4 linked regions of the Homo sapiens genome follow. The protein of the gene in region 3 interacts with the protein of the main gene of each other region in a pairwise test. Each region holds a gene or a part of one and is shown on either strand. Other genes may lie near its edges. The genes, in order: JPH1, TMEM143, NAT8 and GOLT1A.

Region 1 (7,618 bases), on a different chromosome or scaffold from region 3:
ACAATAATGTAGCTAAAAGTCCTATCTCCCAGGCAGCAAATCTTAAAAGAATCTTTTCTTATTTTTAAGGCTTTTTAAAATTTTTTATTTTATTATTATTATACTTTAAGTTTTAGGGTATATGTACACAATGTGCAGGTTAGTTACATACATATACATGTGCCATGCTGGTGTGCTGCACCCATCAACCCATCATCCAGCATTAGGTATATCTCCCAATGCTATCCCTCCCCTCCCCCCACCCCACAACAGTCCCCAGAGTGTGATGTTCCCTTTCCTGTGTCCATGTGTTCTCATTGTTCAATTCCCATCTATTAGTGAGAACATGTGGTGTTTGGTTTTTTGTCCTTGGGAAAGTTTACTGAGAATGATGAGTTCCAATTTCATCCATGTCCCTACAAAGGACATGAACTCATCATTTTTTATGGCTGCATAGTATTCCATGGTGTATATGTGCCACATTTTCTTAATCCAGTCTATCATTGTTGGGCATTTGGGTTGGTTCCAAGTCTTTGCTATTGTGAATAATTTTTAAGGGTTTTAAAAGACTGTAGAACTCTAAAATCAGAGCTATTATAAGGGGAATGTCATTCCTTTAACTGCTTCCTCCAAAAACAAGTTACAAAGCTGTAATCGGAAGTATTCATTATATAATAGCAAGGAATCTGGGAAAAGGACTAAAACAGTGAAGGTAAGTAAAATATAGAAGGTTAATTGAATATATTTATTTTTAATTTGTTGATTGTGTCATCCGAACAGTATTTTATTTATTGTTGTAAGAACACTTAACATGAGACCTACCTTCTTAACAAATTCTTTTTTTGTTTTTTTTGAGACAGGGTCTTGCTGTGACACTCAAGCTGGAGTGCAGTGGCACAATCACAGCTCACTACAGTCTCGACCTCTGGGGCTCAAGCCATCCTCTCACCTCAGTCTCCCAAGTAACTAGGACAGGTGTGCGCCACCGTGTCCGGCTAATTTTCTTATTTTTTGCAGAGACGGGGGTCTCACTATGTTGCAGAGATTGGTCTTGAACTCCTGGGCTCAAGAGATCCTTCTGCCTCAGCATACCAAAGTGCTAGTATTACAGGCATGTACCATAGCACCTGACCTTGACAAATTCTTAAATGCAAAATGCAGTATTGTTAACTATAGGCACAGTGTTGTAGTGCAGATCTATAGAATGTATTCATCTTGAGTAACTGAAACTTCGTATCTGTTGAACAGCAACCCTCCATTTTCCCCACCCTACAGTCCCTGGCGACCACCATTTTACTCTATGTTTCTATGAGTTTGACCATTTTAGATCAAGTCAGGTCATTGCAGTATTTGATTAAGTGAGATCATGCAGTATTTGTTTTTCTGTGACTGACTTCTTTCATTTGCATAATGAATTAAGCATTTTAAACATAGCTAAGTAACTATGAAGTAACTAACTGGCTAAAAGTATAAGGTCTTAAACTAAAGATCTCTTGATTATAACTATATAATACAGTATTCCCAAATGAAATAATACTACCCCCAAAAGACTTGCAACAGAGAGAACATGGCTAGGACTTGGGTGAGGGTTTTATGATACTAGCATAATCAGAGATCATCTCTGCATTGCCAGTCGCTTTCTGTTATACAAACTCCTCCAATGGAAACTAATGATAAGTCGTTTGTTAAAGTGTTCTGCACAGGTTCATTTTTCACCTCCCAAGACTGAGCTGACTTTAGCATGTCACTAAGTTGTAACAAGAAAACATGGAAGAATCCAAGTGTGCATTTAAAATTAGAGGTCAAGGCCTAACAAATGTTTATCACTAGGTCTAAAAGTAAGCCAGCAAGATTAGATGTGCTGAGTATCTGATCTATAAGCAAACTGAAAAGCAAAGTAGATCCAAAACTGTGATCTGAAGTAAAAGATGCCTGGTAGAGAAGACAGGAGAGAGAGAGACCCTTCATTAAAGTTTGTGCTGATCAACAAAAAATAATAGCTTTGAAATGAAATTAGTTTGGGATAAAGATGAAAACCTTGAAGACTTTTAATATATAATATAATATATATCTAAAAGTAATGCAAAATATGCAACCTTATTTAGTGGTAGCCCTACTTATTTTTTAAGTAGAGGAATTAAAAAAAAAAGAACTCTAGAAGTACTAAGTTGAACCATATGATGTCACCATTTTTTTTTGTACATTAAAAAATTTGAACATTGGAAATTTCATATGGCTCCATCAAAAAAAAGGGAGGTTCATTAATTCAATGCCAATAACAAAAACCTGAAGACATGCTAACATTTTGTGGTTTCAAAAGGGCGTTTACTTCTGTGGAAGAGTGTTATTGAAGCAGAAACAGGATTTTTAATATTCTATGCTACATTTATGCTTCAAGTCTTACAAAGCTGTGGCTAGTCAGTACTCACTTAAATAAGACTAAAAATAAAATTTTCCATTTATTACCACACCTTTTTCTTTTTGTCTCACCTATGATATCCTTCCCTAATAGAACTTTATTCCCAATAGATTTTTCCATCCCTCTTGCTGGATCCCTGAAACCAGCTATTAATGGTAAAACTTCAAGCACGTAGTCCTTCTGTGCCCACACATACACCCCACTTGTCAATCTATTATTCACCGGTTTTCTCCTACTCACTCCAGCCCTTCTCTACTGCTCTTCTTTCTTCCAACCTTGGCACATTGAGAGTCCCATCTGTCCATGTCAGGTTGTCAGGTTCCCTCCACCCCTTTCCTTTTAATACACCAGTGACCTAATCTCTTCTGCATAGAATGTGGCGATTCTTGTAGGTCTCTTTGCCTTTCCCATGTAGCTGTTGTTTTTAACAATGCATGCCAGATTTTGTCATGTTATTTTCCACTTTTGCCATATGTAGATTTTGGTGGCTGTCTCAAAACCAATTTTACCTATAAGACTTCATAAACAGAATCTGAATTGTATAAGCTAGGCTAAGTGTACATACCTCCGATGTAAATATCAGAATAAAGGTACACATCTATACTAAGTATGTTTCTACGTGGATTGCTATTTTCTTTTGGTACACAAAACACAATGCTTGCTATGGCAGCATTTCAGAGGTCCTTCTTACAAAAAAAAGAAAAGAAAACAGCAACTTTCCGGGCTCAGGAAGATGAGCACAGGGTCTCAGTGAACTCCCTCACGCTGTTAAATATGAGGGAAGTAATTTAGAACAGGAAGGGGAGCTCAAAGTGCCTTCGACATTTTTTGATGATGGGAAGTTTCAGAACAGTGCAGGTACATTTCTGACTTTGATTCTACTGAGTGTAATCATTTTTCACCTTTGATTTTTTAGTAGTTGTAGAAAGCATTTAGCGATGTCACTGGCAGATAGACAAACATAATATTTGATACTCCATTGTTCTGACCAACCCAGCAAAACCAACCACCCTGCATTTACTTACCTTGAATTTGCTATTTCCACTTTGGTTCTGGCCATGGCAGCTGCCCTTTGGGCGCCTTCAATTGCTCTGTCCACCTTCTCCCTAGTTTTTGTATGTCTTATTGGTATAAGCTGCTTCCTTATCCCACGGACCAGAATATTATTTTTGTATTTTCCCTCTTCTTTGGAGCCGTCAGGAAACACGGTACAGCCATATCCATGCCTCTTGTTATTTGCCCACTCCCCTTCATACTTCATGCCATTGGAGCGCTCGCTAACGCCGAAGCCGTTGCGCTTGTCGTTCTTCCACTCGCCCATGTAGGTTTCCGTGGTGGTGGCGTCCACGTGGTCTTCCACCGGGCAAAAATCACAATCTACATCGCCAAAGCTGATCGTGGAGTTGGCATCGCTGGAACTAATTCTGCTCATGGCCGCGTCGCTGCGGACAGAGCTGCGCTTGCTCGAGATGGAAGACTTGGATTCGGACTTGCGAAGTTTCATGCTTCCAAGAAGGGAGCCCCTCCGGAAGAGGCCGCCCTTCTTCTTGCCCGCTAGCTCAGCGTCTGCGTGGAAGTTGAGCACGAAACCGCCGCGGGTGCCGGCCGGGCTGTCGGCGGCGGCTGCGGCGTCGTGGAGCACGCTGCCATTGCTCTGCTCGCTGCGCAGCGAGGCCAGCGAGGTACGCAGCGGTGAGCGGATCACCGTGGCCATGCCGTAGGGCACGCTCTGGCGCACGCCGTAGCCATGCCGCATGCCTCCGGCCCACTGGCCCTGGTAGGTACCTTGGAGAGACCGCAAGAAAGCACCGTGAGTCGGGGGCAGAGCTGCACCGTCACCTGCACCATCCAGCGCACACTGGCGCAGGCCTGCCCAAGGTCAAATCTGACCCATTTCCAAGTCAACCCTGGGGGATACTTTGCATCCACTTGTGAATCCCCGCCCTGTAATTTTGGGTGTAAGGCTTTAATGTCATTGCACAGAATTTTCTAGTAGTCAGATAATTTTTGCTTTTCATTAAAATTTTATGCAAGTATTTCAGAGGAAAACCACTACTTTCTAATACAAAAAGTGAACACTGGGAAACAACATTCTCCTCTGAAATTAATGCATCAAAAATTCCTCTTGGGAAGAAGACAAGGAAACAGTAGAAGATGAAATGAATTCTATGTGTAAATTTTATTCTAATATTACTAATTTAGCTGGAAAACTGTAAAAAATGACTTTTAGGTCTATGTCAGTATAACATTCCAAGAAGTATACAGGCTTAAATCGGAATACTTGGGACACAGTCATCAAATGAACGTCTTAAATTTTCTGCTACATTCAGCATCTCTTTTTTTAGTGTAGACAAAACTGTTGAATATTCAGGATTATCATTTGAATTTGGGTGAACCTTTTTGAGCTAAGAGAGAATCGACAACCACAATATATATTATGAATACAGTGAATTATGAAAAAAATGAGTAATTTAACATTTTTGTGCTTCTAAGTGAAAAGGCCAAAGCTTTGTGCCGTATCATTTGCCAAATCTCTGCATCCTCTATGGATTTCCCTAGCTGCCACTGCATTGTGAATCACACCACAGACTAGAAGCACCCTGAGGGCAGGAATTACTTCGTATGAGAACACAAAATTCTCATGTGTCCTCTGGTCTGTGTTTGTGGATGGAGGGTGTTTGATGACTATGTTGACGGTAAAAAGCTATGGTGGCTAAAAAGTATACCCTTTACTCTTGGAGAAACTGATGTAAGGCCAGATGAAATCTTCTACTGTTACCATTTTGGACTTCATCTCAGAGGAAAGGTATATTTGACACTATCTATTAAAATGTTGATACCAGATGACTCTGTCAACAAATATTATGCTTTTTCATGATAGTCTGTCATCTAGAGCATTTGTAGTGAATTTTTTGCTACTAAATAAATAAGCAAAGACATTAAAAAATAACCTGGTACAGGTTTTAAAATAATCTTAGGAGGAAATGAATGTTAAATTAGGGAATTTAGAAGTTTCTTTTCAAAATCAATTTCCTTTAATTAAGGGTAAATTTTAATTTACAGTATCCCTCAAAAGAAGCTATCTGGAAAATTTAAAATGTAATTACTTCTGTGTTATTCATAACAATTCACAATGTCATAGAAAACAAATAATGATTAGTCTGTCTTGACCTCTTTCCATTTCTGATTATATAGATCTACCCTGCAGTCACTTTGCATTTTATATTTCCATGCACAGATTTCCATTGCATGGCACATATTCATTTTCAAAACACCGGGCAAAAATGCTAGTGGTTTTATATAACTGTGTTAACAATGGCTGGTTATTTCATTGCACTTAAAAGTTAAAACCATAATGACTCCCAAGTCAACGGTTTTGACCAATTTCAAGACTACCTTCTCTTTTTGTTCATTCTGGCATATGTGACACAGGCAATAGTAGATATACAATGAAATACTAAGTGGGTCTGGTACTGTAAATGTCATATTCTGGGTAGATGTGAAGTCTTAACTTGACATCTATGAACTTCTGAGGAGGTGGGTGGCCCACAGTTTTCTCTGAAAGATTAACTCAAGAGGATAAGATAGTCATGTAAAACATTTCAGGCTAAGAAGCTTCCTATTGAATACTGGCCATCTCCAAATACCGCCATCTTAACAGGAATGGGAATGGAATTATTAGGAAATTTTGACTTTGACTTTTCCTTTGCCTATACAGGTAAAATTTAAATTCTAGGATGAAAGTTTCACAATCTGGCTTGAAGATACTAAAATAAACCACCTTATTTTTAATATTTTGTTGGTTAAAAGAATGCTATAATCACATCCTCCTAACTTTTGTCTATAGTGACAAGTTAATTTTGCTAGAACAATTTGCAGAGATGCTGTTTGATATCAATAAGTATCTGCACTTTTAAAACACAGCCATACCATCTTGGTAAATGTTTAACACTGATGGAAAATTAACAGCTAGTTTCTTTAAACTGTTATCTCCAAAAATAAGACTAGTACAGTATTTAGAATTTCCAAAAAAGTATGGCTTGAAAATCCAAGCTGTTTAAGGCAACAGCAATAATTAGAAAGTTTAAGTCTCTGCTTAACTGTCAAATAGGGAAGGGGGGGACAAGAGCATTGGCCACATTCCTCTCCTATTTTGTTAAATCACAGTATATGAAAGAATTCCTCCACAGAATTGCTAGAAACCAATTTGCAGTCAAACTGTTAGCAGTTCATCTGAAATTTAAAATAGGTTTAGTTTAGTCAATGAACCTAGAATAAGAAAGGGCCTATTTCTTTATGAAGCAGGTGGGTTCCAACTTCTCCCTGCTGCTCAAATAAAGTTCTAATTAGTTCCTCTTGATTCCTAAAATGTAGATGCATATTTCACAAGTATAAAAATTACTTTTACCAGTTTTAAACTGTGTTCATTTGGGAGCTAATTTTTTAGATTTAGTCATTTTAACTACACAATCTTGTAGTGGAAGGCATCCAGTTTAGGAGTTTCAGTCAAATTTGCACTGCACTATGCCAAACTTCAGTTTATATGCTCCGAATGGGTATGTGCAAGTATGCATCTAGTTAACAAAACGTTGTGTTTTCCCAGATATTTTCAATAGTTTTATGACAAGTGAAAAAACAAAGTACAGATCAGAATTAGCACAAAAAATTCTGGGCACCTAGACTTGGATTTCATGAGTATGATACTAACTTATTGTTAATATTCAGGGGGTTTCTATTTCAGCAACATGTAATACACAAATCACTAATAAAATAAGTGATACGTCTCACATGGAATTACTGCTTCCTTCCTCCTCCAGTTTAATGTCACCACAAAAAAACTCGGAATCAGATTTTCCCTGAATCTGATACAGGGTGTACAGGGATGGACATGTGGCGATGGGGAGAGTGCAAACAAAAACAAGCTAACTCCTTAGTGAGAACAGCAGAAAACAAGCTAATTTTTTAGTGATATTCCTATTTTGGCCAAAACCTTTGTATGAAATAAGTTACAGCAATAAACTTGCTTTAGACTCCCTTTTTATGATTGAGAACTTTCTAATGAAATAGTTACATATGAGACAGTAGAAAATCTATTAGCATAGAGTAGACATTCAGTAGTGATTTTTAAGGTTTTTCTTCCTAACTGTAGCATATTAGATTTTTTTTTTTGGTAGAAGAAGAAAACCACAGTACCACCCAGGATGATGCCAAGTTTTAAGT
Region 2 (7,618 bases), on a different chromosome or scaffold from region 3:
CCCGGCCCAACAACAAACGATTTTTTTAGTTTAACTACATCCCATGCAATATTGGATGACTGTATTGCATAGGACACACTTCCACTGTACTAAAAAATTACACATAGTTTATCTGAAATTCAAATTTACTGGGTATAATGAGTTGAATGTTGTCCCCTAAAAATTTACATCCCTTTGGAACCTCAGAATATGATCTCATTCGGAAATAGGGTCTTTGCAGGTAGAATTAAGGTAAAGATACAGATGAGATCATACTAAATTAGGGTGGAACCTAAATCCAATGAGAGTGTCCTTATAAGAGACAGAAAAGGACACACATAGGACACCGAGAAGGCAGCCACAGGAAGATGGAGACAGGGGTTGGAGTGACTCATCTACAAGCCAAGGAGCACCAAGGGTTGCTGGCAGCTACAGGAAGCCAGGAGAGACACCATAGATGCTTCCCTCTCAGGGCCTCCACAAGGAAACATCTTTTAATACATTTCACTTCTTTTTTTTTTGAGACATAGTCTCACTCTGTTGCCCAGACTGGAGTGCAGTGGTGCGATCTTGGCTCACTGCAGCCTCCGCCTCCCGGGTTCAAGTAATTATCCTGCCTCAGCCTCCGGAGTAGCTGGGATCACAGGCATGTGCCACCACACCCAGCTAATTTTTGTATTTTTAGTAGAGTCGGGGTTTCACCATGTTGGCCAGATTGGTCTCGAAATCCTGACCTCATGTGATCCACCTGCCTCGGCCTCCCAAAGTGCTGGGATTATAGGCGTGAGCCACCGCGCCCAGACTTTTTCTTTTTTTTTTTTTTTTTTGAGACATAGTCTTGCTCTGTCACCCAGGCTGGAGTGCAGTGGTGCGATCTCAGCTCACTGCAGCCTCCGCCTCCTGGGTGCAAGTGATTCTCCTACCTCAGCCTCCCGAGTAGCTGGGACTATAGGCACCCGCCACCACACCCAGCTAATTTTTGTATTTTCAGTAAAGATGGGGTTTCACCATGTTGGCCAAGCTGGTCTCGAACTCCTGACCTTAAGTGATCCGCCCACCTCGGCCTCTCAAAGTGCTGGAATAACAAGCGTGAGTCACTGTGCCCGGCCAAATTTCACTTCTGTACCTTGTTGCTGGTCTCTTCCTCAGTAGAACAGAGCCTGTGAGGTACATCTCTCATGCTGTCCACTGTCTCCCAGAGCCTCAAGCCATTCCAGAGACACAGTAGGTGCTCAATAAATATTTACTGAGCGAACTCAATGAATGAATGAATCAGCGAAAAAAGATCAGAGAGAGGTCACCCGCCAAGGTCACCCGCACCACTAGTGAACAACCAAGCTATTGTTTGAACCGAGGCTATGCTGCTTCTTTCCCTGCCCAGGCCACATCTTCAAAGGACTTAAGTCATCAGCAAATGGTCACCCAGCGGGCCTCACCCGCCTCTGCCACTTCTACCCTGCCCCTGCCTCTGTTTAAAATCTCCTGCCTGGGAGATATATGCTTATTCACTTATGTTCTTTCTACATTTCTATATATTTATACATTTCTATAATAAAATAGGCTTTTTTTAACTTTTTTTTTTTAAGAATCTTGCTCTGTCACCCAGGCTGGAGTGCAGTGGCGTGATCTTGGCTCACTGCAACCTCCACCTCCCGGGTTCAAGTGATTCTCATGGTTCAAGTGATTCTCATGCCTCAGCTTCCTGAGTAGCTGGGACTACGGGCACCCCCCACCACAACCGACTGATATTTATATATTTAGTACAGACAGTTTCACCGTTTGCCAGACTGGTCTCGAACTCCTGGGCTCAAGTGATCCGCCTACCTCGGCCTCCCAAAGTGCTCAGATCACAGACAAGACATACCAAGCCCAGCCTTAACTTTTAAAAAAATAGAAAAAGAAAAAAACAACCGTGGCTCCAGAGGCCATAGGTGCCCTGTGGAAGAGCTTGGAGGCAGGCAGACGGGGGCTTGATCTCGACTCCACCAATTATGAACTGTGTGATCCTGGGCACAACCCGGGCCCTCTGAGACATTCAGTTTCTCCATGTATGAATGGGCTGATGGCGGCTGTCTCTCCGCACTGCAGGAAGGAGTCAATAAGCCAGACACAGCAAGCGCTCAGCAACAAGGGGCTGTGATGGCCACTGTTGCTGGGGTTGTTATTATTCAAAGCAAAGTGCGGAGCTGCAGAAGGCAGTGGTGGGATGTGGCGAGGGGTGAATGCAGCAGGCCTGGGTTGTCCAAACCCCGCACATTCCAAAGAAAGGACCGGCCCTGGACCAGCTTCTGGGAGGGAACCTCTAAGCCCTTGGAATGTCCTGACTGATAAGAGTGTCTTGGTTTACCTGGGGCCTGGGGCCACACTGGATGCTGTGTGTTAATGTTGTCATCTATGGTCAGGGCCTGGAGCCACTGAGCATCAGTTTGACCTCGGAGGGGCTGGAGTCTCAGGTCAGCCACCATGCATATGTGACTGACCCCCAGTAAAAACCCTGGCCACCCAGGCTTACAGGAGCATCCCTGGTTGGCAGTACTGCTTGCGTGTTGTCACACATCTTGCTGGGAGAATTAAGTGCCGTCCATGACTCCACCGGGAGAGGACAGCTGGACGCTCACGCCTGGTCTGTCTTGGATTCTGCCCCATGTGCCTTTTTCCTTTTTTTTTCTTTTTTTTTTTTGGGATGGAGTCTCACTCTGCTGCCCAGGCTGGAGTGCAGTGGCACAATCTCAGCTCACTGCAACCTCCGCCTCCTGGGTTCAAGTGATTCTCCTTCCTCAGCCTCCTGAGTAGCTGGGATTACAGCTACTGGGATTACAGCGCCACTATGCCCAGCTAATTTTTGTACTTTTAGTAGAGACAGGGTTTCACCATGTTGGCCGGGATGGTCTCGATCTCCTGACCTCGTGATCTGCCAGCCTTGGCCTCCCAAAGTGCTGGGATTACAGGCGTGAGTCACCACGCCCGGCCCTCCTTTTTTTTTTTTTTTTTGAGACAGAATTTTGCTCTGTCACCCAGGCTGGATAGTGCAGTGGCAAAATCTCAGCTCACTGCAACCTCCGCCTCCTGGGTTCAAGCGATCTCCTGCCTCAGCCTCCCAAGTAGCTGGGATTATAGACATGCGCTACCAGGCCCAGGTAATTTTTTTTTTTTTTTTTTGAGATGGAGTTTCACTCTTATTGCCCAGGCTGCAGTGCAATGGTGCGATCTTGGCTCACTGCAACCTCCTCCTCCCAGGTTCAAGCAATTCTCCTGCCTCAGCCTCCCGAGTAGCTGGGATTACAGGCATGCACCATCACACCCAGCTAATTTTGTATTTTTAGTAGAGACGGGGTTTCTCCATGTTGAGGCTGGTCTCGAACTCCTGACCTCAGGTGATCCGCCCGCCTCGGCCTCCCAAAGTGCTGGGATTACAGGCGTGAGCCACAGCACCTGGCCTTTTTTTTTTTTTTTTTTTTTTTTTTTTTGAGATGGAGTCTCACTCTGTCACCCAGGCTGGAGTGCAGTGGCGCGATCTCGGTTCACTGCAAGCTCCGCCACCTGGGTTCAAGCGATTCTCCTGCCTCAGCCTCCTGAGTAGCTGGGATGACAGGCACATGCCACCACACCTGGCTAATTTTTGTATTTTTAGTAGAGACGGGGATTCATCATGTTGGTCAGGCTGGTAATTTCTGTATTTGCAGTAGAGACAGGGTTTCGTCATGCTGGCAAGGCTGGTCTCGAACTCCTGACTTCAGCTGATCCACCTGCTTTGGCCACCCAAAGTGCTAGGATTACAGGCGTGAGTCACCGCGCCCGGCAGTACTACCATCTATTAATAGATCCTCCCACAGCAGTTTCTCAGCCCAGACCTCTCCCTTCACCTCCAGATCCACATATTCAAGTCTATCTTTCTTTTTTTTTTTTTTTTTTTTTCTGAGACGGAGTCTCACTCTATCGCCCAGCTGGAGTGCGGTGGCGCAATCTTGGCTCACTGCAAGCTCCGCCTCCCGGGTTCACGTCATTCTCCTGCCTCAGCCTCCCGAGTAGCTGGGACTACAGGCGCCCGCCACCACGCCCGGCTAATTTTTTTTTGTATTTTTAGTAGAGACAGGGTTTCACCGTGTTAGACAGGATGGTCTCGATCTCCTGACCTCATGCTCCGCCTGCCTTGTCCTCCCAAAGTGCTGGGATTACAGGCATGAGCCACCACGCCCGGCCTCAAGTCCATCTTTCTACCTGCCTTTCTAAAAGGCAGCTCAATGGATAAAGAAAATATGGTCTATATACACCATGGAATACTACTCAGCCATAAAAAGGAACAAAATAATGTCTCTTGCAGTAATTGGATGGAGTTGGAAGGCCATTATTCTAAGTCAAGTAACTCAGGAATGGAAAACCAAATAGCCGTATTCTCACTTTATAAGTGGAAGCTAAGTAAGCTATGAGGGTGCGAAGATACACAGAGTGATATAATGGAATTTGGGGACTCAGGGAGGGGGGTTGGGATGGGGGTGAGGGACTACATATTGGGTATAGTGTACACTGCTCTAGTGATGGGCACACCAAAATCTCAGAATGCACCACTACAGAATTCATCCATGTAACCAAAAAGCACATGTACCCCAAAAACTACTGAAATAAAAAATGTTTTAATTAAAAAAGAATGGGCCAGGCACGGTGGCTCACGTCTGTAATCCCAACACTTTGGGAGGCCAAGGCAGGTAGATCACGAGGTCGGGAGTTTAAGACCAGCCTGAGCAACATGGTGAAACCCCATCTCTACTAAAAATACAAAAATTAGCCAGGCGTACTGACACACGCCTGTAATCCTGGCTATTCGGGGGACTGAGGCACAAGAATCACTTCAACCCGGAAGACAGAGGTTGCAGTGAGCCAAGATCGCACCATTGCACTCTAGCCTGGGCAGCAGAGTGAGACTCTGTCTCAGAAAAAAAAAAAAATATATTAGAATAAATAAATTCATAAATAAATGGTAGCTCAAATTCTTAAGTCCAAAACTGAGCTCTCAGTCCTCCCTGCAGATCTTTCTCCCCATCCCACCACGGTCTCCCCCATCCCAGTAAATGGCAGCTCCATCCTCCAGGAGGCTCAGGCCAGAACTGCTGGAGACGCACCCCTACTCCTCTCTCTTCCTCCCCAGAACACCCCCACAGCCAGCACATCAGCAAAACGCTGATGCCTTCCAACATAACCAGCATCTGACCGTTTTTCACCATTTCCATCGCTATTACCCTTGTCGGAGCTTCCATTATCTCTCCCCTAGACAAATATAATAGACTCTTTCATAGATGTCCCTGCCTCTGATAGTCTGTTCCCTACACTGCAGCCAGAGAAATCCTGTTAACACCTAAATCCGCTGCTCACATCTCTCCTCAGCTCAGAGCCCTCCCATGGCTCCCGGCTCACTCAGAGTCAAAGCAAGGTCCTCGGCCTGGCACAGTGGCTCACGCCTGTAATCCCAACACTTTGGGAGGCCAAGGCGGGTGGATCACTTGAGGTCAGGAATTCAAGACCACCCTGGCCAACATGGTGAAACCCAGTCTCTACAAAAAGTACAAAAATTAGCAGGGGGAGGTCGTGGACGCCTGTGGTCCCAGCTACTCAGGAGGCTGAGGGAGGAGAATCGCTTGAACTGGGGAGGCGGAGGTTTGCTGTGAGCTGAGATCGCACCACTGCACTCCAGCCTGGGCAACAGAACAAAAACTCCATCTGAGAAACAAAAACAAACAAACAAAAAAACAAAGCAAGGTCCTCACAGTGGCCCACAAGGCCCAGTACGATCTGTCCCCATCCCCTCTGCCCTCATATCCCACCCTCCCCGCACATTCACTCTCCTGCAGCCACAGTGGCCTCCTCACTGTTCAATACTCCAGGCCTCCACTCACCTCAGGGCCTTTGCACTTGCTCTTCCATCTGCCAAGAACATCCTCCCCCAGGCATTCATCAGGCTCGTTCCCCCTCTTCACTAAGCCTTTAGCCCACATGTCACCTCCTTGGGGAGCCCTTCCCCACCCACCCCGTCTGAAACAGGCCCCATCTCACCCCTCTTTGTTTTTTTTTTTTTTTTGAGACAGAGTTTCCTCAGTCGCCCAGGCTGGAGTGCAGTGGCGCAATCTTGGCTCACTGCAAGCTCCGCCTCCCGGGTTCATGCCATTCTCCTGCCTCAGCCTCCCGAGTAGCTGGAACTACAGTCGCCCCCCACCACGCCCAGCTAATTTTTTTGTATTTTTAGTAGAGACGAGGTTTCACCGTGTTAGCCAGGATGGTCTCGATCTCCTGACCTTGTGATCCACCCGCCTCAGCCTCCCAAAGTGCTGGGATTACAGGCGTGAGCCACCGCGCCCGACCCATCTCATCCCTCTTTATCTCACTACTCCGCCTCATTGTTCATGGCACTTATCACCACCAGGCATCATATTTTATATTTATTTGATTCCTTGTCTCCCCACTTGGAATGTTGGCTCCATGAGGGCGTCACTTCACCTGTCATGTTCACTATTGAATCCCCAGCACTTAAAATAAGGGCCAGGCTCCAAGAAGGTGTCAGGGAATGTTTGCTAAATGAGCGGATGCTCGAACAAGCACCACAGGGCTGGAAGGGCCCCGTCCTCACCTGCAGCCGGGCCAGGATTTGGTGGTAGTGGAACAGGGTGCAGAAGTCCACGTGGGCCGAGAACGCCTCCAAAGCCGCCTTCTCTGCCGGACTCGAGTGGAATTCCTGTTACCTCAGGAAGCAAAACTTCTCTGTAGGCCTTTTCCCCTTCCCCGAGGGAAAGAATTCTTTCCCTGGCTGCCTAACTACACAATCAGAGCTCTGGACTTTGAAGTTTTGTTCTGGGGCTGGGCGCAGTGTCTCGCACCTGTAATCCCAGCACTTTGGGAGGCCGAGGCAGTGGATCACTTGAAGTCAGGAGTTCAAGACCAGCGTGGCCAACATGGTGAAATCCTGTCTCTACTAAAAATACAAAAATTAGCCGGGCGTGATGGCATGCACCTGTAGTCCCAGCTACTCAGGAGGCTGAAGCTGGAGAATTGCTTGAACCAGGGAGGCGGAGGCTGCAGTGAGTCGAGATCGTGCCACTGCCCTCCAGACTAGACAACATCAAGACTCTGTCTCAAAAAAAAAAAAAAAAAAAGTTTTGTTTTGGTTGGGTGGGGGCTGACCAATTTTACTGAAACTGAGGCAGCCAAATATAGTGAAAAACTATACTGGGCTTAAAAAGCTGGAGGTTCAAGTTTTTGCTTTGACATTTCCTAGCCAATACACACACACACAATTCCAGGAACGGTTTGACAGTGTAATATCATCCTCCAGAAGTAGATGGAATTATTATTATTATTATGTTGAGACAGAGTCTCGTTCTGTCACCCAGGCTGGAGCTCAGTTGTGCAATCTCAGCTCACTGCATCTTCAACCTCCTGGGATGAAGCGATCCTCCCACCTCAGCCTCCTGAGTAGCTAAGACTACAGGTGCCCACCACCATGCCTGGCGAATTTTTTTCAATTTTTTGTAAAGGTGGAGTCTCACTATATTGCCCAGGCTGGTCTGAACTCCTGTGCTCCAGCAATCCTCCCACCTCAGCCTCCCAAAGTGCTGGGAGGCTGAGCCACCATACCCCCAAGGTTGATGGAATT
Region 3 (7,610 bases):
GACATGAGATTTGGGGGTAAGGGGCAGACCAATATAGTTTAGATGTTTGTTCTCTCCAAATCATATGTTGAAATATGACCCCCAATGTTAGAGGTGGGGCATAGTGGGAGGTGTTTCGCTCATAGGGGTGGATTCCTCATGAATGGGTTGGTGCTTTGTCCATGATAATGAATGAGTTCTGGCTCTATTAGTTCACATGTAAGCTGGTTGTTTGAAAGCACCTAGCATCTCTCTTGTGTGCTGTCTCGCCATGTGACACATCTGCTCCCCCTTCAGCTTCCAACATGAGTAAAAGATTCCTGAGGCCCTCACCAGAAGCAGATGCCTGCACTGTGCTTTTTGTACAGCCTGCAAAACCATGAACCAAATACACCTCTTTTCCTTATAAATTACCCAGTCTCAGGTATTCTGTTATGATCCCCTGGAAGAGTTATACTACTTCCAGGTCTAGCCCATGGTAAATCCCACACTCCCCTCTGAGGCCACCTTCTTCCCTCTGCAGAGACCCTGGAGTTAGAGTGGATTGGTTGTGTCTCTGGCCCCAATTCTTCTCCCGAGGCTGCATTCCACCCTTTTGCTATGTGACTTTGCAGCCCTTCTCACTGCAGAGACAGGTTCCTCTCCTTGAGTTTGGGGAAGATGCAACACATGCAGGGGTTTGAAAACACATTTGTTTGTTTCTGCTTTTGTTTTTGCTCCTCTGCAATTTCCTTGAAACCATGCCTGAGGTAGCCTGTGGGAAAACGAAACAGCACCATTGACCTAGTCTTTCAGCCAATCCCACTGCATTTGTACAATGCAGTCTGACACCAGAGGAACTGCCCAGCCAAGCTCAGGCAAAATTGCTGACTTCAGACTCATGAACTAAATAAATATTTGTTTCATTTGGTGGTTGTTCTTATGCAACATTATGCTGGCACTAGAAAAATGAAACAGATGGGAATCAAAAAGACTGAATGAAGCAGAAACCCAGAAGCTACCCCACAAGCAATCACATGGGACTCAGATGTGAATGGACAATAAGCTTTTATTGCATTGAAAGGTCATTGCAGTGAAAGGTTGGGGATTGCTTGCTGCTACAGCTGAATGGATTCTATTCTGACCAATACACACAGAAAGAGATCACAGACTCCCTACCTTAGAAGAAGGGAGGTGGTAGATGAAATGAACTGTATGAAGAGCCACTAGCCTGGCCCACACACAGAAGAAGGACTGGCCCGTCTTCTTGAAGCCCATGCTCTGGTAGAGGGCCATAGCAGAGAGCTGGATGGTGCCGGTGTCCAGGATAACTTCACTGTAGCCCTGGTCCCGGGCAAACTGGAGGACAGTCCTGACCAGGGCTTTTGCTATCCCCTGACGACGGTGCTCACTGTCCACAAAGAGATGAAACAGCTGCAACCGCTTCTCCCTCAAGGTGGGATCATCAACAGGCAGAGCTCCTACCATGCCCACCACCTTCTCTTCAGACTCAGCCACCCAGAAGCAGGAGCCACGCTCACTCAGGTAGGATTTGGTAATGTCAGACATGTCTGTGCACAATGTCATGTCCACATACTCCGTCCAGGGTTTTTTGGCAAGGAACCACAGGGCAGGGAAGAGGCTGATGCTGAACACGAGGGCTAGAAGCCAGGATCCAGAGACCAGGAGTAGGGCGAGGGGCCCCCCAAGTAAGAGTATGAGGGTTCGAGGCAGCTTCAGCAATTGCCGGAAGGTGGCTGGGGCATGCTCGGCCATCCCCCGGGAGAGCAAGCCCACAACCCACTGGCGGTCGCTCTCCTGGTATTTGCGGATGTGACAAGGAGCCATGGACAGACTTCTGTGTCTGAAATCTCTAAGTCCAGGAGACAGAGCTAGGCCTCCCTGCACGCCTTTACGTCAGACTGGGGAAGAGAGAGAAAATCATGTGAGTGCCTGCATGGCTCCCAGCCTTGCAGGAACAGGGAGACCTGCTCAAGGGTGTGTCTTTCCGCGTTTGCCCATGAGGAAGCAGGCCTCTGCCACTGGGAGAAGGTAGGGTCAGAAAGACCTGCATTGGAATCTGGTTCCATCCCTTTCTAGCTGTGTGACCTTAGGCATGTCACTTAACCTCTCTGAGCCTCCATTTCTTCAACTATAGAACAGGGGAGAAGAAAACCTGCCTTCTAGAGTTGTTTTGAAGATTGAATAAGATGCCTTCTATAAAGCCCTGGTAGATGAACTACCCACCGCTCTTCCTTTTTCTGTTTCCTTTTTCTGGCTCTCTCAGCTTCTCCGTGCATTGAGGGGGCACCTACCTCAGGCAGGCCACACGTGCAACCCTTTTGTCCTTCTCCAGGGACCATACATCGCAAAAATTCTCTGTCCAACACAAGTTTCAGGAAAGGCTCCCTCCAGCTTTATTGTAAGTTTTTAGGTTGCTGAAGTGGCATAAGAGCCAAGCATAAAAAACAGCCCAGCCTCCAGATCCCAAGGAAGGTGCATGCTCAGAGCACTGTCCTTCCACCCAGTCCCCTCACCTGTCACCACAAGAGCCTTGAGTGTCCAGGGAGCTTCAGCTCTCAGCCGCTCACTGGCATCCAGGAGATACCGTCTGGGGCTTGCTCACCCCTGGAAAGTAGACTGCCTGCCTTATTGCTTGGCTCCTGAATGTTTGGTAATCATCAACCCTAGGGTCAAAGAGCTGGGCTGTAACACAGCAGGGAGCCCAGTGTGCATTCCTCTTTGTGGTCAAAGGGAACGACCTGGAGGGGGAGACTCAGGGTCTGGAACCGCCTGGGTTCCTTGCCCTTCTGGAAGGCCTGCCACCTCTCTTGCCTGTTCAGGCCCCGTGCATCTCTCTGCCACCTGGCACACTTAGTACTCTCGGTCCCTGTCCACATATACGATCCACCCTGGTCCTTGTACACATATACGACGAGCCTGAGAACTGTACCATTCACCCTGCAATCAGTCACCATTGGCCAGAAGCCGAGTCCCCATGCTTGGCAACAAGGCCCTTCCCAGCTAGGCTTCTCCTCGCTGAGGTTTCCCTGGTCCACGAAGCATCTGTTGTTGGCAGTTCCTTGCACTCACCTCACCAACCCCCATCTCCACCCATTCATTGATTCAGTCAACAGTTGTGTGTCATGCACTTCCTGTGTCCTGGGGTCATTTCAGCCATGAGCAAGGTTGACATTCGGCTTGACAGGCATGGCTGTGTGTGGCTTGTGTGTGTTCTGGCTGTTGGTCAGAGGCTGTGCCACACCCGTTGTTAAATATTTTGCACTGCAGATGTTGGGGAGGCCCAAATTCATGCTCTTGTACCCGACGTGGAGCTGATCCCAAACACTGACACATGGGTGCTTGGAGATAGAGAAAGTTGTATTCGATTTGGCCAAAGCAAGAAGGCAGGAGAGCAAGATCTCTCAACTTCAGTTCAACAAAGAAGCAGCAGCAGAATGTTTTTATGCAGCTAGAGAGTGAGGAAGGGGGAGTTCAGGGGGATTGAGAGGAAAAGTCTGTGTTTCCTCAGTCTGAGATAACACCTTGTGCAACCAGGCTTCTCAGTGTCAGCAGCTGGTCACAGTGTCCTTCAAGGCATTCATTCATTCTGCAAACTTTTCCTGACCCTGAAGGAATGTCTTCCTGCTGAACAAAGAAACAGTACATGAGCAGTTTATCATTATGTTGTGGGAACAAGGAATATTGGACCAAAAGCAAGTGGTTAACATGTGCAAGCCAGCAACGGTCTGATCAGAATGTTCATTATTTCAGTCACTAAAACATGGTGTGGTGCTGAAATCTCAAGGGGCCCAATTACAAGGATGCAACATATACAAGATAGGCAAAAGCAAAACCTAACAGAAAAAGCCCTTTTCCACACCAACTTACATGCTATTGAAGGGAAACTTCCCTTCCAAAGATTAGCTAACCTATTGATGATCAGCCACGCTGGGCCCGTCATCTAGGTTAGGTAGTTTGGACTCTATTCCAAGAGCAAGGGGAGGACATTGATATGCACGGAGGGGAGGAGGTGTGTGTGTGTGTGTGTGTGCGCACGCAAGCATCACTCTGGCTGCAGGTGGACAATGGATCTGAGGAGGTAGGAATGGAAGCAGCTACCCCTCAAGGCTCATGCCACATCCAGGCAAGAGCGGGGCCTCCAGTACAGGGATGCAGGTGCTCACTGTACAAGAGCAGCTGGCCCAGAGGCTCTGGTGGGAGCTAAAACTGGGCCTCCCTCTGGTTGCCAAGCCATGAGCCATGGCACGAAACTGAGACTGGCCAAAGGAAAAGGCAACCTTTTCTTATTTGCTCAAAGGCGTTGCTTGCCTGCTAAACTCTGCATCCAGTGGGCTGCATGGCTTGAGGCTGTGCCTAGCTCTGGGTTCACAAAGAAGCCGCCTGGGTTAGCAGAGGCCCATGAGACAGCAGTGGCTTCACCAGAGGGAGGAAGTCAAGAAGGTGAGACATGAGCCGTATGGAGGTGCATTTGGGGCAGAAATGGCAGGAGTTGGAATGATTCACACAGGGAGGAGGATGAGGAAGGGCTCAGAGACGACAGCCAGGCTTCTGGTAGGGGCATTCAGGAAAACACTGGAGAGAGCCCAGATCTGGAAAAGTCAAGGCTTCCCCTAAAGGTGCTGCCCTGCAGCCTTCTTCAGCAGAAACCAGAAGCTGGGAGTCAGCAGCAGGAACCCAGGGCCAGCCAGTGGAGGCTGCTGAGATTCCAGATCTTTGGTACCCAACACCACCTCCGAGGAAAAGTCTAAGGAGCATCAAGTCTGGGCAGGAAGTCCATGGCTCATCTTTAGAGTGTTCTCGCAACATTTCAGTGTCAAGCAGGAGTTGGCCTAGGAATCAAAAGAGGTGAGCGGTGGCTCCAAAGCACCACTGAGTACTTCTAGTGTGAGTCTAACCAATATTCAGTCAGAAACCTGCCGGTCACGTGGAGGGGGAGAGGTTTGTGCTCCGTCCCTGTGTGCTGTCTCTCCCTCCATGCTCACCCGTGGCTGTGGCTTCCTCAAAACACAGCGACCTCACTTGACATTCAGGCGTCTCTTGCTCCCAGGATTTACTGTGACTTCTGCATTTTTGTAGCTTTCCTGATAAAAGCCTGGGCTTTCCTTGTCGGACCTGAAAGATTCATTTATTCATTCAACAAACAGTGGCCGAAGGCTTGTTATGTGCTGTGCCTGGACTTGGCATGAAGGCACCAGATGTCAGAAGCGAGGCTGCTGCCCAGGAGGACACACCTGATGGGGCTCTGGGACCAGGACGATGGTGGAGACATCACATCCGGAATAACTTTGTTAGGAAGGTGAACTTGACAGTTAGGACTTAGTTCTCCTTGAAGACGTCCTTCACATCCCTTGTGAGTTGGATTCCTAGGTATTTTATTCTCTTTGAAGCAATTGTGAATGGGAGTTCACTCATGATTTGGCTCTCTGTCTTTTATTGGTGTACTTGTGATTTTTGCACATTGATTTTGTATCCTGAGACTTTGCTGAATTTGCTTGTCAGCTTAACGAGATTTTTGGGCTGGGATGATGGAGTTTCTTTTGTGGGCATTTAGTGCTATAAATTTCCCTCTACACACTGCTTTAAATGTGTCCCAGAGATTCTGGTCTTTGTTCTCATTGGTTTCAAAGAACATCTTTATTTCTGCCTTCATTTCATTATGTACCCAGTAGTCATTCAGGAGCAGGTTCAGTTTCCATGTAGCTGAGTGGTTTTGAGTGAGTTTCTTAATCCTGAGTTCTAGTTTGACTGCAATGTGGTCTGAGAGACAGTTTGTTGTAATTTCTGTTCTTTTACATTTGCTGAGGAGTGCTTTACTTCCACCTATGTGGTCAATTTTGGAATAAGTGCGATGTGGTGCTGAGAAGAATGTATATTCTGTTGATTTGGGGTGGAGACTTCTGTAGATGTCTATTAGGTCTGCTTGGTGCAGAGCTGAGTTCAATTCCTGGATAGCCTTGTTAACTTTCTGTCTCGTTGATCTGTCTAAAGTTGACAGTGGGGTGTTAAAGTCTCCCATTATTATTGTGGTGGGAGTTTAAGTCTCTTTGTAGGTCTCTAAGGACTTGCTTTATGAATCTGGGTGCTCCTGTATTGGGTGCATATGTATTTAGGATAGTGAGCTCTTCTTGTTGAATTGATCCCTTTACCTTTATGTAATGGCCTTCTTTGTCTCTTTTGATCTTTGTTGGTTTAAAGTCTGTTTTATCAGAGACTAGGATTGCAACCCCTGCCTTTTTTTGTTTTCCATTTGCTTGGTAGATCTTCCTCCATCCCTTTGTTTTGAGCCTGTGTGTGTCTCTGCACGTGTAATGGGTCTCCTGATGGTCACACTGATGGGTCTTGACTCTTTATCCAATTTGCCAGTCTGTGTCTTTTAATTGGAGCATTCAGCCCATTTACATTTAAGGTTAATATTGTTATGTGTGAATTTGATCCTGTCATTATGATGTTAGCTGGTTATTTTGCTCATTAGTTGATGAAGTTTCTTCCTAGCATCGACGGTCTTTACAATTTGGCATGTTTTTGCAGTGGCTGGTACCGGTTGTTCCCTTCCAGGTTTAGTGCTTCCTTCAGGAGCTCTTGTAGGGCAGGCATGGTGGTGACAAAATCTCTCAGCATTTGCTTGTCTGTAAAGAATTTTATTTCTCCTTCACTTACGAAGCTTAGTTTGGCTGGATATGAAATTCTGGGTTGAAAATTCTTTTCTTTAAGAATGTTGAATACTGGCCCCCACTCTCTTCTGGATTGGAGTTTCTGCCAAGAGATCAGCTGTTAGTCTGATGGGCTTCCCTTTGTGGGTAACCCGACCTTTCTCTCTGGCTGCCCTTAACATTTTGTCCTTCATTTCAACTTTGGTGAATCTGACAATTATGTGTCTTGGAGTTGCTCTTCTCGAGGAGTATCTTTGTGGCGTTCTCTGTATTTCCTGAATTTGAATGTTGGCCTGCCTTGCTAGGTTGGGGAAGTTCTCCTGGATAATATCCTGCAGAGTATTTTCCAACTTGGTTCCATTCTCCTCATCACTTTCAGGTACACAAATTAGATGTAGATTTGGTCTTTTCACATAGTCTCATATTTCTTGGAGGCTTTGTTTGTTTCTTTTTACTCTTTTTTCTCTAAACTTCTCTTCTCGCTTCATTTCATTCATTTGATCTTCAATCACTGATACCCTTTCTTCCAGTTGATCGAATTGGCTACTGAGGCTTGTGCATTTATCACATAGTTCTCATGCCATGGTTTTCAGCTCCATCAGGTCATTTAAGGACTTCTCTACCCTGGTTATTCTAGTTAGCCATTCGTCTAATCTTTTTTCAAACTTTTTAGCTTCTTTGCGATGGGTTTGAACTTTCTGCTTTAGCTTCGAAAAGTTTGATTGTCTGAAGCCTTCTTGTCTCAACTCGTCAAAGTCATTCTCTGTCCAGCTTTGTTCCGTTGCTGGCAAGGAGGTGTGTTCCTTTGGAGCGGGAGAGGCGCTCTGATTGTTAGAATTTTTAGCTTTTCTGCTCTGGTTTCTCCCCATCTTTGTGGTTTTATCTACATTTGGTCTTTGATGATGGTGATGTACAGATGGGGTTTTGGTGTGGAGGTCCTTTCTGTTTGTTAGTTTTCCTTCTAACAGTCAGGACCCT
Region 4 (7,618 bases), on a different chromosome or scaffold from region 3:
ATGGGGGCTGCTGCATACGTCCAGGAAAGAGATGATCGTGGCCGGGAATTAGGTGTTAAGAATGGAGAGAAATGGACAGCTTTCAACATGTATCTTGGAAGAAGAAAAGAAAACTTAGCTGTGGATTTCATGGGGGAGGGGTGGGCTTCTGCGTTAAGTGGTGGGGTGGGCGGTGGTGACATGTTTACTCATTTGAGGACAACCAAGGGAGGCACAAGTTGAAGGAGGGAAGATAAATAGACCAGTTTGGGATTGAAGATTAGCCCAGTTCAAGATGGCTGAGAGAAAACCAGGCAGATATGCCAAGTAAGCAGCTAGATATGAGTTTCAAAGCCCAAAGAGAGGCATGGACTAGAAAGAGAGACATCAGTGTCATCAGCATACAAGGGAGGTTTGAAGACGTGAGAGGCTGGGTGTGGTGGCTCATGCCTGTAATCTCAGCACTTTGGGAGGATCGCTTGAGGCCAGGAGTTCAAGACCAGCCTGAGCACATTGCAAAACCCCTGTCTCAACAACAAAAAAATTTAAACCAATTTTAAAAAATTAGCTGGGCATGGTGGCCAAGTGCCTGTAGTCCCAGCTACTCAGGAGACTGAGGTAGAAGGATCCCTTGAGCCCAGGAGTTCAAGGCTGCAGTGAGCTATGATTGTGCCATTGCACTCCAGCCTAGGCAACAGAGCGAGATCCCAGCTTTAAGACAAAATTAAAAACAAAAATAAACACATGGGAATACATGTGGAAATAGAATGAGAAGAGAAGTGAGCTTGGGCACAAGCCCTGTGCAATTCAAATCCCAAGAAGAAGAGAGAGAAGTAGGAGCTGGCAGAGGAGACAGAGAAAGGGCAGTTAGAGCAGTAGGAAGAAAATCAAGAACGTGTTGTGCACAAACCAAGAGAAAGGCTGTTTCAACACGGCAGTGGTCAGTTCTAACAGATGATGGTTCACACCTGCCCATTGGATCTGGTAACATGAAGGTCATTAATGGCCAAGGCAAGAGCATTGCCTGCAGAAGTGGACTGGACTGGGTTGGTTAAAGGCACTTTTTATTTTTTGTTTTGTTTTGTTTTTGGTTTTTGAGATGGAGTTTCACTCTTGTTGCCCAGGCTAGAGTGCAATGGCATGATCTTGGCTCACTGCAACCTCTGCCTCCCGGGTTCAAGCGATTCTCCTGCCTCAGCCTCCCAAGTAGCTGGGATTACAAGTGCCCGCCACCTCACCGGCTAATTTTTTGTATTTTTAGTAGAGACGGGGTTTCATCATGTTGGCCAGGCTGGTCTCGAACTCCTGACCTCAGGTGATGATCCACCCACCTCGGCGTCCCAAAGTGTTGGGATTATAGGTGTAAACCACCGTGCCTGCCCAAAAGGCACTGTTTGGAGCTCAAGACTAAGTTCAAATCCTGCTTCTGCCAGCTGCTGTGTATCCCCAGGCAAGTGACTTAACCTCTGTGTTTCAGTTTTGTTTGTGAAATGGTGCTAATAGTAGTACCTATGTCACAGGTAGTTATGAAAATTAAATGTGTTAATATACTTAAAGCATATATGTGCTTAGACTGTGCCTGGCCCAGTATGTTCATTACACTATCAATCACTATTGCTAATTTTAAAAAGTGAATGAGGCTCTTTCTCTCCTTATTTCCCTCCTTCCTCTTCCTGAACAATTCAGTCTTAAAGCCATTAGGTTTAACACAGAGAAGGCGGTGCCCAGAGTGGGGTGTTAGAACCCCAGCAGGGTGAGAAGGGTGTTCACACTAGGGGTGGCCTGGTACAAAGTATCATAGGCAAAGCATCCCCTGCAGGGTCAGGGATGGGGTGGTGAGGGGCCTGGCAGATACTGCCTTAAGAATAAAGAAACATTATCAGCTATGGGGCAAATTGACATCTTGCACCACCTACCAGGATGCAGTGAGAAAAATACAGCATCACATCTTGTGCTATTTCTGCCTAAGATGCATAACCTGAAGCTAGTCGTGAGGAAACATCCGACAAACCCAAATGGAGGGATGGCTACAGAATAAGTGGCCTGAATCTTCAAAAGTGTCAAGGTCATGCCAAGGAAAGACCAAGGAGCTGTTCCAGACAGAAGAGTTTAAAGAGACATGATCATTAAATACCACACAGAATGATGAACTGGATTATTTTGCTATAAATGATGCTACTGGAGTAACTGATGAAACTTAAATGGAGTCTGAGGGTTGGAGGATAGTCACATATCAATGTTAGTGTCCCAATTTTGATGGCTGTATGTTGGCTGTTTAGGAGAATTTTTTGTTTGCTTGTTTATTTCAATAGGTTTTTGGGGAACAGGTGGTTGGTTACATGAATAAGTTCTTTAGTGTGATTTCTGAGATTTTGGTGCACCCATCACCCGAGCAGTGTACATTGTACCCAATGTGTAGTCTTGTATCCTTCAGCCCCTCCTACCCTTTCCCATGAGTCCCCAAAGTCTATTGTATCATTCTTATGCCTTTGCATCCTCATTGCTTAGCTCCCACTTGTGAGTGAAAACATATGATGTTTGCTTTTCCATTCCGGAGTCACTTCACTTAGAATAATGATCTCCAATTCCATCCAGGTTGCTGCGAATGCCATTATTTCATTCCTTTTTGTGACTGAGTAGTAGTTCATTTTTTATATATATATATATATATATATATACACACACACACACACAAGTATACATATATACACACATATGTATACATATACACATATGTATACATATATACATATATGTATACATATGTGTGTATATGTGTATAGATACACACATATATACATACATGTGTGTATATATGTATACATATATATGTATATGTGTGTGTATATATATACACATCACAATTTATTTATACACTCATTGACTAATGGGCATTTGGGCTGGTTTCATATTTTTGCAATTCCAAACTGTGCTGCTAGAAACAGGCATGTGCAAGTATCTTTTCCGTATAATGATTTATTTTCCTCCGGGGAGATACCCAGTAGTGGGATTGCTGGATGAAATGGTAGTTCTACTTTTAGTTCTTTAAGGAATCTCCACACTGTTTTCCATAGTGGCTATTCTAGTTTACATTCCCACCAGCAGTGTAGAAGTGTTCCCTGTTCACCACATCCACGCCAACATTTATTTTTGTTTGTTTGTTTTTTGATTATGGCCATTCTTGCAGGAGTAAGGTGGTATCACATTGTGGTTTTGATTTGCACTTCCCTGATCATTAGTGATGTTGGGCATTTTTTCATGTTTGTTGGCTGTTTGTATATCTTCTTTTGAGAATTGTCTATTCATGTCCTTAGTGTCCAGGAGTTTTAAAAACCACACCAGAGCATTCAGGGGTGATGAGGTATGAGGTGGCAACTACTTTCAAATGGTTCAAGAAAAATATTCTTTGTACTGTACTTGCAAGTTTCCTGTACATGTGTGATTGCTTTAAGAAAAGGAAAAGGGGGAAAAAAGACGATGATGTTCTGAGACTCACTGCGTGCCTGAGGCCAGAAGGACTCATCTGCCTGCTCCATGAGATATTGTTTTCTTGGAGCTGTAGCTGATTTCTGGAGCAAGAAAGACATTGAACCTGGCTTTTCTTAAAGTGAGCCACAAAATGGGGAGTCAGGGAAGCCTGGCTTGTCCGTATCGGGTGGCCATGGGCTCTTCTTGGCAGCAACTCGGGAGTTGCAGAGCAAGGAGCTAAACAAGGGCACCAGTGCAGCCATCAGTGTACCTTGCCAGGGAGATCTAAAGCTGGTCTCTGAGGTCTGGGGAGGTCTCCACTTCTAGGTGGCGCCTGGAGAGCCGGGCCTCCCTGAAGTTACCTTGGCCTCCCAGCTTTTTTCGGCTGGGTGTAGGCGTGACAGCCCTGGCCGCCTCCAGCAGAGGGCGCGCTGCCCAATCTGTCTGGATCACGGGGACCGTGCCGGGCAGGCACACCTGTCACTCCTGGGGGCATCTGTATGACATCCCCACCCCTCCACTCTTTCTGCCATGGTTGCTGCCTGAAAAGAACTTTAGGAGTAACCTCTGGCTGGATAACTTGACTAAAATAGCTAAGCTACTCCAGAAGCAAGAGGCAAAGGCGGGTCTGAAGCTTGTGTGTGAGAAACAGAGTTTCTGACCCTTTTCTGTGGGGTTTCGTGTCCCACTGAGCACTGAGAGCACTAAGTGTGGCCCATAAAGAAGGCTGCCCCCATCACAGGAGAGTCCTGGAATTGCATCTGCCCTTAAAGAAGAGTGTAGAACAGGTGGAGGAGGGATAACTATGGCAGCCAGCAAATCACTGCTGCAGAAGAAGAAGGAATAAACAGGAGAATGGACATCATGTGTGAATGTGAGAAACTTACGCTGTTTCCACAAAATGAGTATGAGGCTGTTCTTAAGTGTGTGCAGGATGAACATATAGAAAGTTCAACAAAACGAAATGAAAACCCCGTAAAATGTGCACATCGTGTTTCCACACAAATACACCTACTGAGGGGGAGGAAAGGGTGTATAGTCAGAGCTGAAATCAATGACAGATGTTTTTATGGCAGGCATAAGCCAACAACAGATATTTTATAACAAGCATAAAAACCTAAAACACTTTTATCATTTGGGTTAAAGAAAGATGACTGTGGTCTTCCTCCACAATATTCTGACCTACACGAAATTATCTTGGTAATTCAGGTAGATGTAACTCTAGATTCTCAATGTGTTGTCTCTGAGGATGGAAATGTTGACAAAACACAACCTTCATCATGACCCATGGGGGTGATATTCTGCTGAGCTGTCCCAGCTTCTAAGAGATTTAATTCAGGCCAGCAGGAGGAGGTAGAAGTAGGAAACAAGCCCAAATAGATCACGAGGCTTGTCAGGAACACAAGGAATCAGCTTTTAGTAGAAAATGGATTCTGGGCAGCTGGGTGATATGTTGAGAGAAATTATGTTACACTGGGTCCCAACAAAATCCAGCTTCTGCCAAAAGTGAGATCCAGTAAGACTGGCATGATACCAGACTATGAGTTGAGCAAGGTTTCAGTCTATAATTTGAATGCTAGATCTTATCACTGTATTTTTCTGTTTTCTTTTTTTTTGAGATGGAGTTTTGCTCTTGTTACCCAGGCTGGAGTGCAGTGGCATAATCTCGGCTCACTGCAACCTCCACCTCCCGGGTTCAAGCAATTCTCCTGCCTCAGCCTCCCACGTAGCTGGGACTAGAGACGCATGCCACCATGTCCAGCTAATTTTTGTATTTTTAGTAGAGACGGGGTTTCACCATGTTGGCCAGGCTGGCCTTGAACTCCTGACTTCAAGTGATCCACCCACATCAGCCTCCCAAAGTGCTGGGATTACAGGTGTGAGCCATTGAGCACCTGGCTTCATTGCTGTATTTTTGATGATTCTTTTAAAGAAGCTCTTTGACCTTTTTTCTGTATTGGAATTGATCCTAATCCTCTTAAAATCTGCATAGCAACAGATGATGGATTAACTACCCAGAAGATGATTATGTTGTTTCATTTTCTTTCAGTTGTAAATAAAACTCAGCCAGTAAATCTAGTCTTGATAATTTTGTTTTTGTTTTTACAATTCTGCCTCTAAACACCAGAATAATTTTTCCCCTCACTTTTAACAACTATCTGCAAAAGCATAATAATAATACCAATTTCATAGAGGTTATGAGAACTGATTCTAACAAGTCCAGTAAAATTTTTGACGAGGGCATCAAGACCATGAAATGGGGAAAGAACAGTCTTTCCAACAGATAGTGCTGGGAAAACTGGATATCCACATGCAAAAGATGCAGGTGGATCCTTACCTTATACTATCTGCAAAAAGTAACTCAAAGCAGATCAAAGCCCTAAAAATAAGAGCTAAAACTATAAAACTCTTAGAATAAAAAATAGGGGAAAGCATTACAGCACTGGATTTGATAATGATTTCTAGGTTATGACATGAAAAGCACAGACAACAAAAGAAAAAAAAGACATCAATCAGACTACATCAAAATTTAAAACTTCACCGCATCAAAGGACACAGTCAACAGACTGAAAGGTAACCTACAGAGTGGGAGGAAATATTTGCAAATCATACGCTACATAGTTAATATCCAAAATATATAAAGAACTCCTACAACTCAACAACAAAAAGAACAACCTGTTTAAAAAATAGGCAAAGGACTTAACTAGACAATTCTCCAAAGAAGATATACACATAGCTAACAAGCACATGAAAAGATCATTAATCATTAATCATTAGGGAAATGTAAGTCAAAACCACAATGTATACTACCTTATACCCATTAGCATGGCTGCTATCAAAACAAAACAAAACAGATAAAGTATTGGCAAGATGTGGAGAAATTAGAACTCTTGTGTACTGTTGCTGGGAATGTTAAATGGTGCAGTCACAATGGAAAACAAAATGGCAATTCCTCAAAGAATTAAAAATAGAATTACCATGTGATCCAGTATAATTCCGTTAATTCCACTTTGTGGGGTATATACCTGAAAGGATCGGAAGCAGTGTCTTGAAGAGATATTTTCTTATGCTCATATTTATGGTAACACTATTTACAATAGGTAAGAGATGGATGGAAGCCACCCAGATGTCCATCAACAGATGAATGGATCAACAAAATGCAGGGTACAGATAGCAATGGACTATTATTCTGTTTTAAAAAGGAAGAAAATTCAGACACATGCTACAACATGAAGGAACCTTGAGAACGTTATGATAAGTGAAATAAGACAGTCACAAAAAGACAAATATTGTATGATTCCACTTATAGGAGGTTCCCAGAGTAGTCAAAAATTCATAGAGAAAGTAAAATGGTGGTTGTTGGAGGCTGGTGGGAGGGGAATGGGGAGCTACTGTTTAATGGGTGTAGAGTTTCAGCTTTGCAAGACGAAGAATTCAGGAGATGCGCTTAATACCACTGAACTGTACATTTTTAAATGGTTAGATGGTAAGTCTCATTTTATGTGCACGTTGCCACAATTTAAAACTTAAAAAGGTAACAATTTAAAAACAAAGCAACAGAATGAATTTTTATTTATTGACTATCATAGTGGCAAAGATAAGTAAAATGAACAATTCTGAGTGCTGGAGAGGGTTAAGGAAAAAAGGAACTATATATCCGGTTATTGTACAAATCGTCTTGAGGGGAGCGATCTGAAATATGTTTATCAAAATGTCAAAAATGTAGCCCTTGACCAAACGAGGGGGCCTTCATGTCCTGCACTTCTAGGCTACGCTTGCTGGCTCTGAGTGAACTCCTGCAGCTTCAAAGAATGCCCTGAGACACTTACAAACCTTGGGAATGGGGGCTTACTGTCAAACCTTGGGAATGGGGGCTCACTGTCAAACCTTGGGAATGGGGGCTCATTGTCAGTGTGGGTCCAACCTCGGCAGAACTGCCCAAAGCCACTGGGCTGAAATGAGAGTTGGCCGAAGAGTGTGTGGGGGGCCCGCAAGGTGCCTGCTGCAGGAGGGAGGGAGGACAATGGGAGCAGGTGCAGGCTTGGGTCTTGGATATAGGTCCCAGCTGAGAAGAGGAATGCATTCCTAACTGATGACTTCTGTTTTCCCAATCCAGTGGGAAATGTCACCACCTGAGAGTGGAGACAGGGCAATTCTGAGGAGGAAGGAG

Evidence for each region.
Region 1: the proteins of NAT8 (region 3) and JPH1 interact in binary tests that used the Homo sapiens proteins (3 or more experiments, as listed by UniProt).
Region 2: the proteins of NAT8 (region 3) and TMEM143 interact in binary tests that used the Homo sapiens proteins (3 or more experiments, as listed by UniProt).
Region 4: the proteins of NAT8 (region 3) and GOLT1A interact in binary tests that used the Homo sapiens proteins (3 or more experiments, as listed by UniProt).

Annotation. Positions count from the first base shown.
Region 1 is NC_000008.11:74,311,438-74,319,055, forward strand, and holds part of JPH1 (junctophilin-1), read right to left. Parts: intron 4,184-7,618; coding exon 3,424-4,183; intron 1-3,423. UniProt on the Homo sapiens protein: Junctophilins contribute to the formation of junctional membrane complexes (JMCs) which link the plasma membrane with the endoplasmic or sarcoplasmic reticulum in excitable cells.
Region 2 is NC_000019.10:48,353,477-48,361,094, forward strand, and holds part of TMEM143 (transmembrane protein 143), read right to left. Parts: intron 6,701-7,618; coding exon 6,596-6,700; intron 1-6,595.
Region 3 is NC_000002.12:73,639,823-73,647,432, forward strand, and holds NAT8 (N-acetyltransferase 8), read right to left. Parts: upstream 2,601-7,610; 5' UTR 2,496-2,600; intron 1,881-2,495; 5' UTR 1,807-1,880; coding exon 1,123-1,806; 3' UTR 901-1,122; downstream 1-900. UniProt on the Homo sapiens protein: Endoplasmic reticulum (ER)-membrane-bound lysine N-acetyltransferase catalyzing the N6-acetylation of lysine residues in the lumen of the ER in various proteins, including PROM1 and BACE1, using acetyl-CoA as acetyl donor.
Region 4 is NC_000001.11:204,203,516-204,211,133, reverse strand, and holds part of GOLT1A (vesicle transport protein GOT1A), read left to right. Parts: intron 1-7,618. UniProt on the Homo sapiens protein: May be involved in fusion of ER-derived transport vesicles with the Golgi complex.